2 separate regions of the Homo sapiens genome follow, and region 2 is linked to region 1. Evidence: fine-mapped expression QTL. Tissue or cell type: esophagus mucosa. Region 1 holds a variant in brackets; the other region holds the start of a gene. All regions are shown on one strand. Distances are between the middles of the regions.

Region 1 (5,937 bases):
TGACACTTGGAAGATAAGCTGAAGACACCCCTTTCTAGATTATCACAACATGTCAACTAGATACAGAGCAGGGCTGCAGATCTAGATGGCAGGTATGTTTATGCTGCATGGGGAGCTATGGCCGCTCTGGAAATAGTGATGGGCTTGTTTTGCAGTGCTGTCGAGCATGTGTGAGTGAGGTGTGAGTTAGCTTCTGCACGTGAGAGCCCAGAGTTGTCTTCCTGTGTGTATTTATTCACGGTACTGAAACATTCGAAGGACAATGGGAGAACATGATTCCCCTCGTGTTCCTCCCAGATAGCCTGGTTTGGAACATTAGCATGTATTGGAAAGTAAGTTGAAGCCACATACTTTGGCAGTTTGGGGGGTATCAGCAATTTCATTTGGTCCATTATGGTGTAGAGAAAGCTCATGAGTCTGGGCATCAGCTTATGTGACTTCTAACCCTGCTCCGCCATGAGCTACCTGTGTGATATTGGGCAAATCTCTCTGCTACTTGGTTTACCCATGTTATTAGTTTAGACTCTAAACTGGAATGGATGAACATCTTCCTGGCTAAAACCCAGTGACTGACATGTGGACAGTAGCATACTTGTGAGTGATGCACACAGGACCCCGAGGACTTGGAATTGCATTCTGTCTTGACCCATCACATTTCTCCGACTGCCAACTTCAGACTCTCCCACTGCAACCTCAGACTTAAAGTAAAGGGAGCTTAAAATACTGGGGGGAAATATGGGAGGCAGAATCTCTCAGTGCCTGTGTAGAGTTTTTAAAATGCGACCCGGTTTTGGTTTAGTCACTGAAAAGTTTGTGGGAGCCTGGCGGTTCCAGGGTGCACACCACTCCTCGTAGCAGGTCCCCTGTCTTGTGTGCTGTGTCCCCCCGAGGTATGCTGGTGCTGGTGGCCCAGGCAGGAGGTGACACTCTCAAAGTGACTGGTCACTACGTAAAATGTGTCTTTCTTTTGTTTGTTTCCCACCTGCTTTCCGAGCCCCTTTCTCGGACAGGTAAGATATCCTGTTTTTTTGTGGATGACTTACATCCCCAGATGCCCTCCTCTGCTTGGGTGTGTGCATGTTGGGGGGTACTGTTGGGAGGGCCACCTGGCTGGGGTCCAGTCATCTCTCTGTCCTCCATTGCCATTATTTTCTGAACCATCAAGCCTCTAGTCCTGAAGCAAGAGAGATAATGTGTGGGGGTCATTAGCGTCATCATCAAGAAAGGGACCCATTGCACATCCTCAGACATAGGGATAAAGGGACCCCCCAGCCAGAGCCCCACTTTCACTTTGAATAGAAGGGCAGTTATCCGGGTCTGACCTCAAGAGCCCCTGAAGACCACTCCCATAGAGGGAGTTTTGAGTGGTTTTTATAAATGGAAAAAGACTTGTGAGCAGTTTCCCTACAATGTCAGTCCATCATGCAATTTTTAAGAATTCATATAAAAGTCAAATTCAATTAAACAAACTTATTAAATGCCTACTATCGTGCAAGACCCTAAGCTGGGCATTGTAGAAGATAAAGAAACACTTCAGGAGCTATGGCCCTCAAGGACCTTACCATTTTAAGACAAGGTGTATTTACTGGAAAGACTTAGACAAGGGTAAAGGGAGTGCATGGTAGGCTATCTTTACATTACTTAAGAATTCAGTGCGTTATAGACTATGTTATGAAGGGTAGAGAGCAAAAAATACAGGAAATCCAAAATGGTGCATAATCCAGAGTTCTGTTTATTACAAAGAGTGTTTTAAAAATAATAATAGCTTATAATTTACTAATCACCTTGACAGGTGTTTTTGGTGCTTGCCTTTTTAAAAACGAGTATGTCTGCTCTGAAAAGTCACTTTAAACCAATAAGGAGACCACCAGGGAAATGTCTGATTTGGGAAGTGGTGGCAATTTGCCTTCCCCGGGCATTTCGTACAGTTTCATTGTTGTCTATGTACTTTCTGGTTTGGGGGGAAATAGTTAAATGGTTTGGTTTCCAAATCTTCTTTGCTAGTTTGCGGATGACGTGATTAAAGAAAATAAGAAGGATGTGGGACCTGACAGGCAAATTGTGCCAAAGTGGATGATGTGGCAAGATACACACTTAGGAGAATCATCAGGAGTTGATGACCCTGCTTGCTGTGGAGCGGGCTGGAAGCTTCTGCTGGTGTGGTGGGTCTATCTGGAGCCCAGCCAGCTTGGGCCCTGTGTCCCAGGGATGCTGTCATGCTGTTCCCTGGCAGGTCCTCACCCTGCAGTGGTGCAGGCCACAGGGCTCATCCGCAGAGAGTAGTCTCCACTTCACTTCCCACAGGTTTTCCTCCCTGCCACCCAAAGGCCCTTAGAATATGGCATACCTAGGTAGTTGGCCTAGAAAGGATAGCACCACTGAAACCACAAGAAAGGTTTTCACTGGCCCGGGATACAGCAGTGCAGGGCAGAAAGAACTGCTTTACACAAAAATTCAGCAGAAGAAAAAGTACACCCTAACCCCAGTTACTCTTAGAAGAGGCTCAGTGAAAATAGACACTTAGCAGAGGTGTTCACAAGGAAAGGAGCCTAGTCATCAAATGATCGAGCGATCTCCTTTCCTCAGACTGACAACATATCTGGGGTAGTTGGTGTAGACAGAAACCTTGACCCAGATTCCAAGGCCTCAGAGTGGGTCTGGCTGCCTGATGACTGAGCTGGATTTCCAGATAGGGAGAGGATGGCCAAGTGTGAGTGTGTGGACAGCATGGCTTAGAGCCTGGAGCTCCAGTCATTTCAATAACAAACCTTTAAGCTACCACCTTGGCCACCACAATTTTCTATCTACAAAATGGGTTTTGGCGATTCAAGATCTGTATTGAGCACAGCTAGGTACCAAACCCAGGCTAGGTGTTGAAAATACAAAGATGAATGAGGCATGCTCTCTGCCTTGCAAATCTTTACAACCTAATGGGTTTATACCCAGCTCTTTGAGTTAATTTTTCAAGCCAAAGAGGATCCCTACAAGAAGGACCATGTACCAGGCATATATAGGCAGCTGTTCCATGATCTATAGCAGGGCAAAGTTGTGGACAGAGCCCTGAGCTGTGGGTTAGAAGGCCTGAGTTCTAGCTCCAGCCCTGCTAGTATTTAGCTGTGTGACCTCAGGCACGGCACTGCATTACGCGGAGTCCTGCAGGCTTCATCTGTAGGTAGATATCCTTCCATGTACCACCTCCCTAGGTGGTTGTAAGGATTAAGTAAGCTGATGTTCATTGGGATCCTCGTGCTTCACTGGCACCGAGTTCCTATCCATTTGGTACGAACTGATTCTGAACCACCACTTAGCACCTCTGCAAGAGCTGGCCCACTCGCTCAAGGCCCACCTCTGTAGACCTGAGGAGCTGCTGCCCCATTTTTTGTGGAGAATATGTGCTATACTCATGGCCTTCAGTGGGGAGCTTCTAACACCAAGCCTCATCCATGCCATCCCTCCACCAGCTTCCAACCCACTGAGAGCTCAGCACGTGCTTACGGTGATGTAAAAATGTCATGTTTCATTGCTTCATCCTCATTTTTTCTTTACTCCAAAGGGCGTGGTGACTCCAAGGTAAAGGGGCCAAGCCCATGAGTCAAGGAGGCAGGTTTACAGGAACAACTTTATTTTTTTATGGCTAGCATT[A/G]GTCACTGATTAACTTGGGTGGGGCAGAGCTAGAATTTCTAGTTCCTGTCCCATCAAGAAAACTACACTGGAAAGTTCAAGAGTGTCTTTGCTGGCTCTTTCTTGAATATTTCCAAAGCCTTGGAAGTTACAGGTTTTGGGTGTGGGATAAGGAAAAACTGAATGATAGAGCACAGGTACCGCTCCCCTTTCCTCATCATGCCTCTCTGTCGCCTCTTTGTTCATAGTTGACCACGGCATGTTTGAGAATTTGAACACAGCCCTCACTCCAAAGCTCCAGGCCAGCCGCTCCTTCCCCCACTTGTCCAAGCCCGTGGCCCCCGGCTCTGCCCCTCTGGGCTCTGGTGAGCCTGGGGGGCCAGGACTCTGGGTGGGCAGCAGCCAGCACCTCAAGAACCTGGGCAAAGCCATGGGGGCCAAAGTGAATGACTTCCTGAGGAGAAAGGAGCCCTCCAGCCTGGGCAGTGTGGGTGTGACAGAGATCAACAAGACTGCAGGAGCACAGCTGGCCAGTGGGACTGACGCGGCTCCAGAGGCTTGGCTAGAGGATGAAAGGTGAGCCCCTCACCCGCCCAACATCCATGCCCCTCTGTGGACCCACTTGAAAAGGTACAGGGACAAACTGCAGTGTCTGCACAGGAGAACAGCCCCAAGGGAGGGGTGTGAGATTGTCCTGTACTGAAAAGCTGCAGGATCAGGCCACGTTCTCGGGAGCTGGCTTCACCTTCTGCAGCCACAGCTGAAGGTTGCTGAGTGCCCACCATGTCCTCGGCTCTGTGCTGCTGAAGGTTGCTGAGTGCACACCATGTCCTCAGCTCTGTGCTGCAGGCTATAGTTGCATCATTTTGTCTAACCCTCCCAGCAGCCCTGGGAGGTAGATGATATTTCCATCCTGCAGATAACTCACGTTCAGACAGACAAAGTAAATAGCTTGAGGTCACAAAGATAGTACTTGGCAGAGCTGGATTTGAACCCAGCTATTGCCCAGAAGGTCCCCAGGTAGATTCTGATGCCCGGCCATAGCTGAGAAGCGCTGCCGTAGACTGTTGCTTGTGGAGAAGCCTGCACCTGTCACAGCCCACTAGGGCACAGTGGGAGAAGCCCCCTGTAGCAGCCCTCCTGTTCTTCCCCCTCCTACCAACAGGCTCTTTCCAGGCCTTGTTTTAAACACCTGTGCATCTGAGGTGGGAATGCCCTCACATTCCCTGTTTTAAACACAGGACTTACTGCCTGGGTTCTGATTTGACAAGCTTCACCAGCGGTCTCTATCCTGTCTTCTAGAGGCCAGCACTTTGTGCTGCTCTGAACACTGAGTAAGCATGGACCAGGCCAAAAGCTACTGTTATGCTGAAATTGCTAAGGCCTATGTGCCAAACCAAGAACCAGAGCCCAAGGAGTAGAGCAGTTATTGGGTGGGGTGGGTTGAAAGTGCAGTTGGAGTTGGAGAAGCAAGATGGCAGGTGGATTGGTGTCTTGCTGTCCTTAAGGCATGTGTGTTTATTGTCATTAACCTTACAGGTCAGTCCTGCAAGAAACATTTCCTCGGCTGGATCCTCCACCTCCCATAACCAGAAAGCGAACCCCTCGGGCCCTGAAGACCACCCAGGACATGCTGATTTCATCACAGCCTGTCCTCAGCAGTCTGGAGTATGGGACAGAGCCATCACCTGGGCAGGCCCAGGACTCCGCTCCCACTGCCCAGCCTGACGTCCCAGCAGACGCTTCACAGCCAGAGGCCACCATGGAAAGAGAAGAGAGAGGCAAAGTTCTGCCCAATGGAGAGGTTTCCCTGTCAGTACCTGACCTAATCCACAAGGATAGCCAGGACGAATCCAAGCTAAAGATGACTGAGTGCAGAAGGGCCTCCTCCCCCAGCCTTATCGAGAGGAATGGCTTCAAACTCAGCTTGAGCCCCATCAGCCTGGCTGAGTCCTGGGAGGATGGCAGCCCCCCTCCTCAGGCACGGACCTCCAGCCTCGACAATGAGGGCCCTCACCCAGACCTGCTGTCCTTTGAATAGAGCCTCTGCTCTTTCCTGCTGAGCTCTGCCCTTGTCTTCCTGCTGCTTTCTCCTCCACTGCGCACACTGGCCCTGGCCTCAACTCCGCTGTGCCCTTTGTCTTCCTTGTATGAGGCACCAGCAGAGAGCCAGTCGTCCATCATGGGATTTTGCAGGACTGGAAGTCCTTGAGTAGTTCTAGTTAAAGAGTCTATCCGCAGAATGGCTGAAGGACTTGATGCCGTTTTGAGCCTAATTTTCTGTAACCTCCTCTGAGTGGGCTGCAGCCCTTGGAC
Region 2 (5,937 bases), 120 kb after region 1:
TCACGCCACTGCACTCCAGCCTGGGTGATAGAGTGAGACTTTGTCTCAAACAAACAAACCAACCAACCAACCTATCTTGTTACTGGAAAGTGGTCTCAATCCAGACCCCAGGAGAGGGTTCTTGGACCTCACGCAAGAAAGAATTCAGAATGAGTCCATAAAGCAAGTTTATTAGGAAGTAAAAGGGATAAAAGAATGGCTACTCCATAGGCAGAGCAACAGCTTAGGCTGCTCGACTTATAGTTATTCATATTTATAGTTATTTCTTGATTATATGCTAAACAAGGGGTGGATTATTCATGAGTTTTCCAGGAAAGGAGTGGGCAATTCCTGGAACTGAGGGTTCCTCCTCTTTTTAGACCATGTAGGGTAACTTCCAGGACGTTGCCATACCATTTGTAAATTGTAATGGTGCTGGTAAGAGTTTCCTTTAGCATGCTAATGTATTATAATTAGCATCTAATGAGTAGTAAGGACGACCAGAGGTCACCTTCACCACCATTTTGGTTTTGGTGGGTTTTGGCTGGCTTCTTTACTGCAATCTGTTTTATCAGCAAGGTCTTTGTGACCTGTATCTTGTGTTGACCTCCTATCTCATCCTGTGACTTAGAATACCTAACTTCCTGGAAATGCAGCCCAGTAGATCTGAGCCTTATTTTACCCAGCTCCTATTCAAGATGGAGTTGCTCTGGTTTGAACACCTCTGACAATCTGATGAGATTTTATGGTTTGTAGGCTGTGACTCCTCACATCCCTTAGATAAGAATTTGGGGCCAGGTGCAGTGGCTCACGCTTGTAATCCCAGCACTTTGGGAAGGTGAGGCAGGCGGATCACAAGGGCAGGAGTTCGAGACCAGCCTGACCAACATGGAGAAACTTCATCTCTACTAAAAATACAAAATTAGCTGGCATGGTGGCAAATTCCTGTAATTCCAGCTACTTGGGAGGCTGAGGCAGGAGAATCGCTGGACCCCAGGAGGAGGAGGTTGCGGTGGGCGGAGATGCCGAGATCATGCCATTGCACCCCAGCCTGGGCAACAAGAGCGAAACTCCGTCTTACCAAAAAAAAAAAAAAAAAAAAAAAAAATTGAGCAAGAGAGAAGACAGGTCAGAGTTTAGTCCTCAACCTCTCCTCAAACTTTCCACTTAGCACTACATGAACCATCTCATCTGGCTGGGAACTTACACAAAACCTGAAGAAAAGAAGATAGGGCCTATTGTCTGATACTAAGTTTTTGCCACACAATCAGAATAGATCTTGAAATAGAAAAGGTTGAATGACTGAAAAGTAAAGAAGGCTACATTTCTTACACACTCGAGTTTGTGGATTGAGATGCCTATTTGCTACATTTGTTACTCAATAAACGTTTGCTGAATGAATAAAATAATTGAATAAATAAATGAAAAATAAAAATTTGGAACAGATCCGTGTTTGCCCAGGGTGAATGCTTTTTGATGAGGGAGCCATAGGCAAGGTGGACTATGTTGATAAAAAGAGTTAAACTCTGTAAAATATTTGAAGAGATTTATTCTGAGCCAACTATGAGTGACCATGGTCTGTGACACAGCCCTCAGGAGATCCTGAGAACATGTACCCAAGGTGGTTGGGGTGCAGCTTGGTTTTATACATTTTGGGAGACATGAGACTTCAATCAAATATATTTAAGAAATACATTGATTTGGCCCAGAAAGGTGGGAAAACTCGAAGCGGGAATTGGTGGGGGGAGAAATGGGTCCTTCCAGGTTATAGGTAGATTTAAAATTTTTCTAATTGGCAATTGGTTGAAAGAGTTATCAATAGAAAGGAATGTCTGGGTTGTCATAAGAACTTGTGGAGACCAAAGTTTTGTCATGCAGATGAAGCCTCCAGGTACCAGGCTTCCAAGAAAATAGATTGTAAATGTTTCTTACCAGACCGAAGGTCTGTGTTGACCTTAACCGGAGAGGTATGAGGCTAGTCGGACCCCCACTTCCCGTCATGGACTGAACCAGAATTTTAGAGTGCCCTGGCCTGGGAGAAAGTCCATTCCGATGGTTGGCGACACGGGGGGCTTAGAATTGTATTTTCGGTTTACATCTAAAAGAAGAACAAAGGTCTAGGCTTCCAGAATCATGGGTTCTGGTGACCGTGGACCTGGAGGTGATGGTAAACTCTCTTTTTGTTCCTGGGGTGTTTTCCTTGGGATCCTTTCTATGAGAAATGTAGGCCGGGTTTTATTTTTCGGGTTCCTAGTGGTGAGGTAAGGTGAGGTGCCTCAACAAGAAAAAGGACCAGTTTTGGCTTCAGGTCTATGTGAAAGCGGTTAACACTGGGCCTGGAATGGTAGATACTCAATAATTAAGGTTACTTCTTATTCTCGGTTCTTTTTTCCAAACCTAGCGCGTCTAATCTCTTCTAGGCCCCGCCCCTTCTGAGCCCCCCCTCCTTCGGCCTGTATGATAGGCTCTTCCTCCATTTCCGGCTTCTGGGACTCGGGTGCACCACGGCTTCCGGTGTCATGGCTGCTTGAAGTCCCGGGAGTCGGTGAGGCGGCTGCAGGTCCCTCCCTGCGGAGCCGCTGGTCCGGCTGGCGGAGATGTGACCGCGGGCCCGGCCGGCCTGCCTCAGGCGTCGCGTCAGCTCCCGTGTCCGTGCCCTTAACCCACACCGATGGCGGGATCCGGCTGCGCCTGGGGCGCGGAGCCGCCGCGTTTTCTGGAGGCCTTCGGGCGGCTGTGGCAGGTACAGAGCCGTCTGGGTAGCGGCTCCTCCGCCTCGGTGTATCGGGTTCGCTGCTGCGGCAACCCTGGCTCGCCCCCCGGCGCCCTCAAGCAGTTCTTGCCGCCAGGAACCACCGGGGCTGCGGCCTCTGCCGCCGAGTATGGTTTCCGCAAAGAGAGGGCGGCGCTGGAACAGTTGCAGGGTCACAGAAACATCGGTAATTGCCGCTGTCTCCTTTCTCTTCTTGCCCAGGTCACAGTCCGAGCACACTCTTCCTCTCGCTGTCTGGCGTTCCATCTTCCTCCCCTTCTGCGGGAGAAGCGGGTTTAGCCCTCTTTATCACCCCATCCAGGCCCCTTTCCCCTTTCACTTTATTACTGTCTGCGGTATAGTGGAGTTGGTGGTCTGCTTTGCCAGGTGTCACATAGATGCTCAGTAAATTGTCTTGCTTCGAGTCTCATCGGAGAATGCCGCATTCATTAGCATACAGAAATATCTTTTCTAGTGAGAGGAGGCATGTCTTTGCTAGATTGTCGTGTCTTGTGTGGAAATTTTTGAATCTTTGCATACCAGTAGAAAATGGGAACTACGTCTGGGCCTTGTGACATCAATGCTAGTAACTCGTATAGCTCACCTATTATATCTTTAGTACGGATTTGGAAGAAATGATGCACTATTCCATGGGAGCCTTTATAGAAGTGTGAAATTTAGGAACACTATACCTTTGCTCTCTTGAGACTGTTTCAAGAATCAGATACTCAGAATGTAAGATATGTAATGATCACTGATGATTGATCTGTGAAAAGGTTTCATTTTCATTACACGACAGAAAGCTTATCATTAGTTATAGCTTTGGTTATTAAAGAAAAGTCTTATTTCCTAGCAAGTATGATGCATAGTTAATTTGAAGAGTGAGTTTTTTTATAATATCATTTTGGAGAAGAATTAACACTAGTGCTACATTTTTTTAGTTTACTAAATGGTCTGTTACTATAACCTTGGTATTGAAAAGGGAAAAATTTTGCAAGCCTAGGGACTTGCCTGATCTCTGCAAGATTAAAATTTCATCCGAAAAGTCTTAATCTCTTTGTTAGTATTTAGATTATAGAGAGCTGTTTATTTTTGTTTTAGTTTTTTTTTTTGAGACAAGTTCTTACTCTGTCACCCAGGCTGGAGTACAATGGCGAGATCACAGTTCACTCCAGCCTCCAATTCCTCCTAAAGCCATGCTCCTACCTCAGCCTCCCAGGTAGCTGGGACTACAGGCACGTAGCACCAAGCCTGGCTAATTTTTTGTAGAGAAGAGGTCCCCTTTTGTTACCCAGGCTGGTCTCCAAACTCCTGGGCTCAAGCAGTCCTCCTGCCTCGGTCTCTCAGAATGCTGGGATCACGGGCATGAGCCACCGTGGCAGACCTAGACTGCTGTTTTGGATGAAGAAGCAATGTTTAGTTTGGTTTTTGCGCATTGTGACATTCCTTTTAAAAGAGTTACTTAATATTTGGGTTTTTACTTTTAAAAATTTCTTTTTTTTTAAAGGACCTCATGATGCAACAGTAAGTTTTATTTATTTATATTTAGGTTTTTTACTTTTAATCATTTTTGCTTGGCACTCCAAGTTCGTGTTCATCACCAATGAGTACTTGGTGAAACACAAATTGAATAATTGTACCATATTTAGTATCTGTGAATGGTAATCAGCTGTTGTAGGCTGTCTCATCTTATTTTTATTAAAATAACCCAATTGCCAAAAGATCTTATTCATGGGAAAAATAAATTACAGTGGAAGCTTGCTCATCAAAGTTATCCTTATCTAGACTATCTCAAATTTGTACTGCAGTTACCTACTTTAGTAGTGACTTACTCTGAGTCTGATTTTTAAAGTATTATAATTTCTTTTTCTAGTGACTTTGTATGGAGTGTTTACAATCCACTTTTCTCCAAATGTGCCATCACGCTGTCTGTTGCTTGAACTCCTGGATGTCAGTGTTTCGGAATTGCTCTTATATTCCAGTCACCAGGGTTGTTCCATGTGGATGATACAGCATTGTGCCCGAGATGTTTTGGAGGCCCTTGCTTTTCTTCATCATGAGGGCTATGTCCATGCGGACCTCAAACCACGTAACATATTGTGGAGTGCAGAGAATGAATGTTTTAAACTCATTGACTTTGGACTTAGCTTCAAAGAAGGCAATCAGGTAAGAAATAACCTTTTCTTTTCTCTCGCAGTTTAAAATGTAGTGGTTGAAGCCAAATATTTTTAAATGACAAGGGTAGTTTAGTAGGGGCTTACAAGTCATTTTAACCTAAATTACTGAAATGCCAGGGGATGCAGTAAATCAAAAGAATTTCAGTGCCACCGTGTAAAAAAAGGACATAATGTTTGGGTCAGGTAGGAGGAGCCAGTGAAGCATGAGAGCTCTGGAATTATTAAAAGTACTTAACCTACATAGAATGGTTTTTTAAATTTTATGCGTGTTTGGCTAATTGCTGAGTTACTATTCCTGGTCTCTTCAGTGTTGGGGCTGTATCTCGTGGCAGAATGCATATGATAGTTCTGCCAAATCCTCTTTTCTCCATGGTTTATCATTTCTTTGCAGTGTCCTTATTATCAGCAGTGCCTAATAGGTAAGAGACAATCCAAAGAAGACTTCTTTATGAGCGCTATATGGAAATGTACAGCTTGCCTCTGAGAACTGCCCAGTTAATGAACCAAAGAATTATGGTAATCAAGGACTAAAAATTTTTAGCATTTAGCTTGGCAGTGGGTTTACTGCACTCTTAGGGAAGTAAATTCACTGTAGAGATGGATAGAAAGGGAGCAGCTTTTTTATTGGTTGTAATATTTACTCATCTTTTTTAGGATGTAAAGTATATTCAGACAGACGGGTATCGGGCTCCAGAAGCAGAATTGCAAAATTGCTTGGCCCAGGCTGGCCTGCAGAGTGATACAGAATGTACCTCAGCTGTTGATCTGTGGAGCCTAGGAATCATTTTACTGGAAATGTTCTCAGGAATGAAACTGAAACATACAGTCAGATCTCAGGAATGGAAGGTAAACTTCACCAGTGCTTTGCTTTGGGGTCCTTACTTTCAACTTAAGAGTATTCAATTTATGATGATTTTTTTTTTTCTTTTGAGATGGAGTTTCACTCTTTCACCCAGGCTGGAGTGCAGTGGCGCAATCTCAGCTCACTGCAACCTCCACCTTCCGGTTTCAACCAATTCTCCTGCCTCA

Direction of the effects. Positions count from the first base shown, and alleles are read on the strand shown. Sizes are in standard deviations (SD) of each study's normalised expression.
In carriers of allele G in region 1, the expression in esophagus mucosa of the gene that starts at base 2,468 in region 2 tends to be lower than with A alone (small effect, 0.32 SD a copy in GTEx).

The links. PIP is the estimated chance that this variant, and not a neighbour inherited with it, causes the effect.
Region 2: it holds the start of UHMK1, and the variant in region 1 is fine-mapped to the expression of UHMK1 in esophagus mucosa (GTEx, PIP above 0.99).

Annotation. Positions count from the first base shown.
Region 1 is chr1:162,378,022-162,383,958 of GRCh38, forward strand. It overlaps C1orf226 (chromosome 1 open reading frame 226), which reads left to right and starts at 3,707. Exons shown (of 2, transcript NM_001085375.2): 1 at 3,707-4,197; 2 at 5,161-5,937. The coding sequence starts at 3,881. The coding sequence ends at 5,662. RefSeq lists a silencer at 4,358-4,652. The variant A/G (reference allele first, on the strand shown) is at 3,643.
Region 2 is chr1:162,495,351-162,501,287 of GRCh38, forward strand. It overlaps UHMK1 (U2AF homology motif kinase 1), which reads left to right and starts at 2,468. Exons shown (of 8, transcript NM_175866.5): 1 at 2,468-2,918; 2 at 4,605-4,897; 3 at 5,563-5,754. The coding sequence starts at 2,651. RefSeq lists enhancers at 2,204-2,704, 2,439-2,518, 2,705-3,205.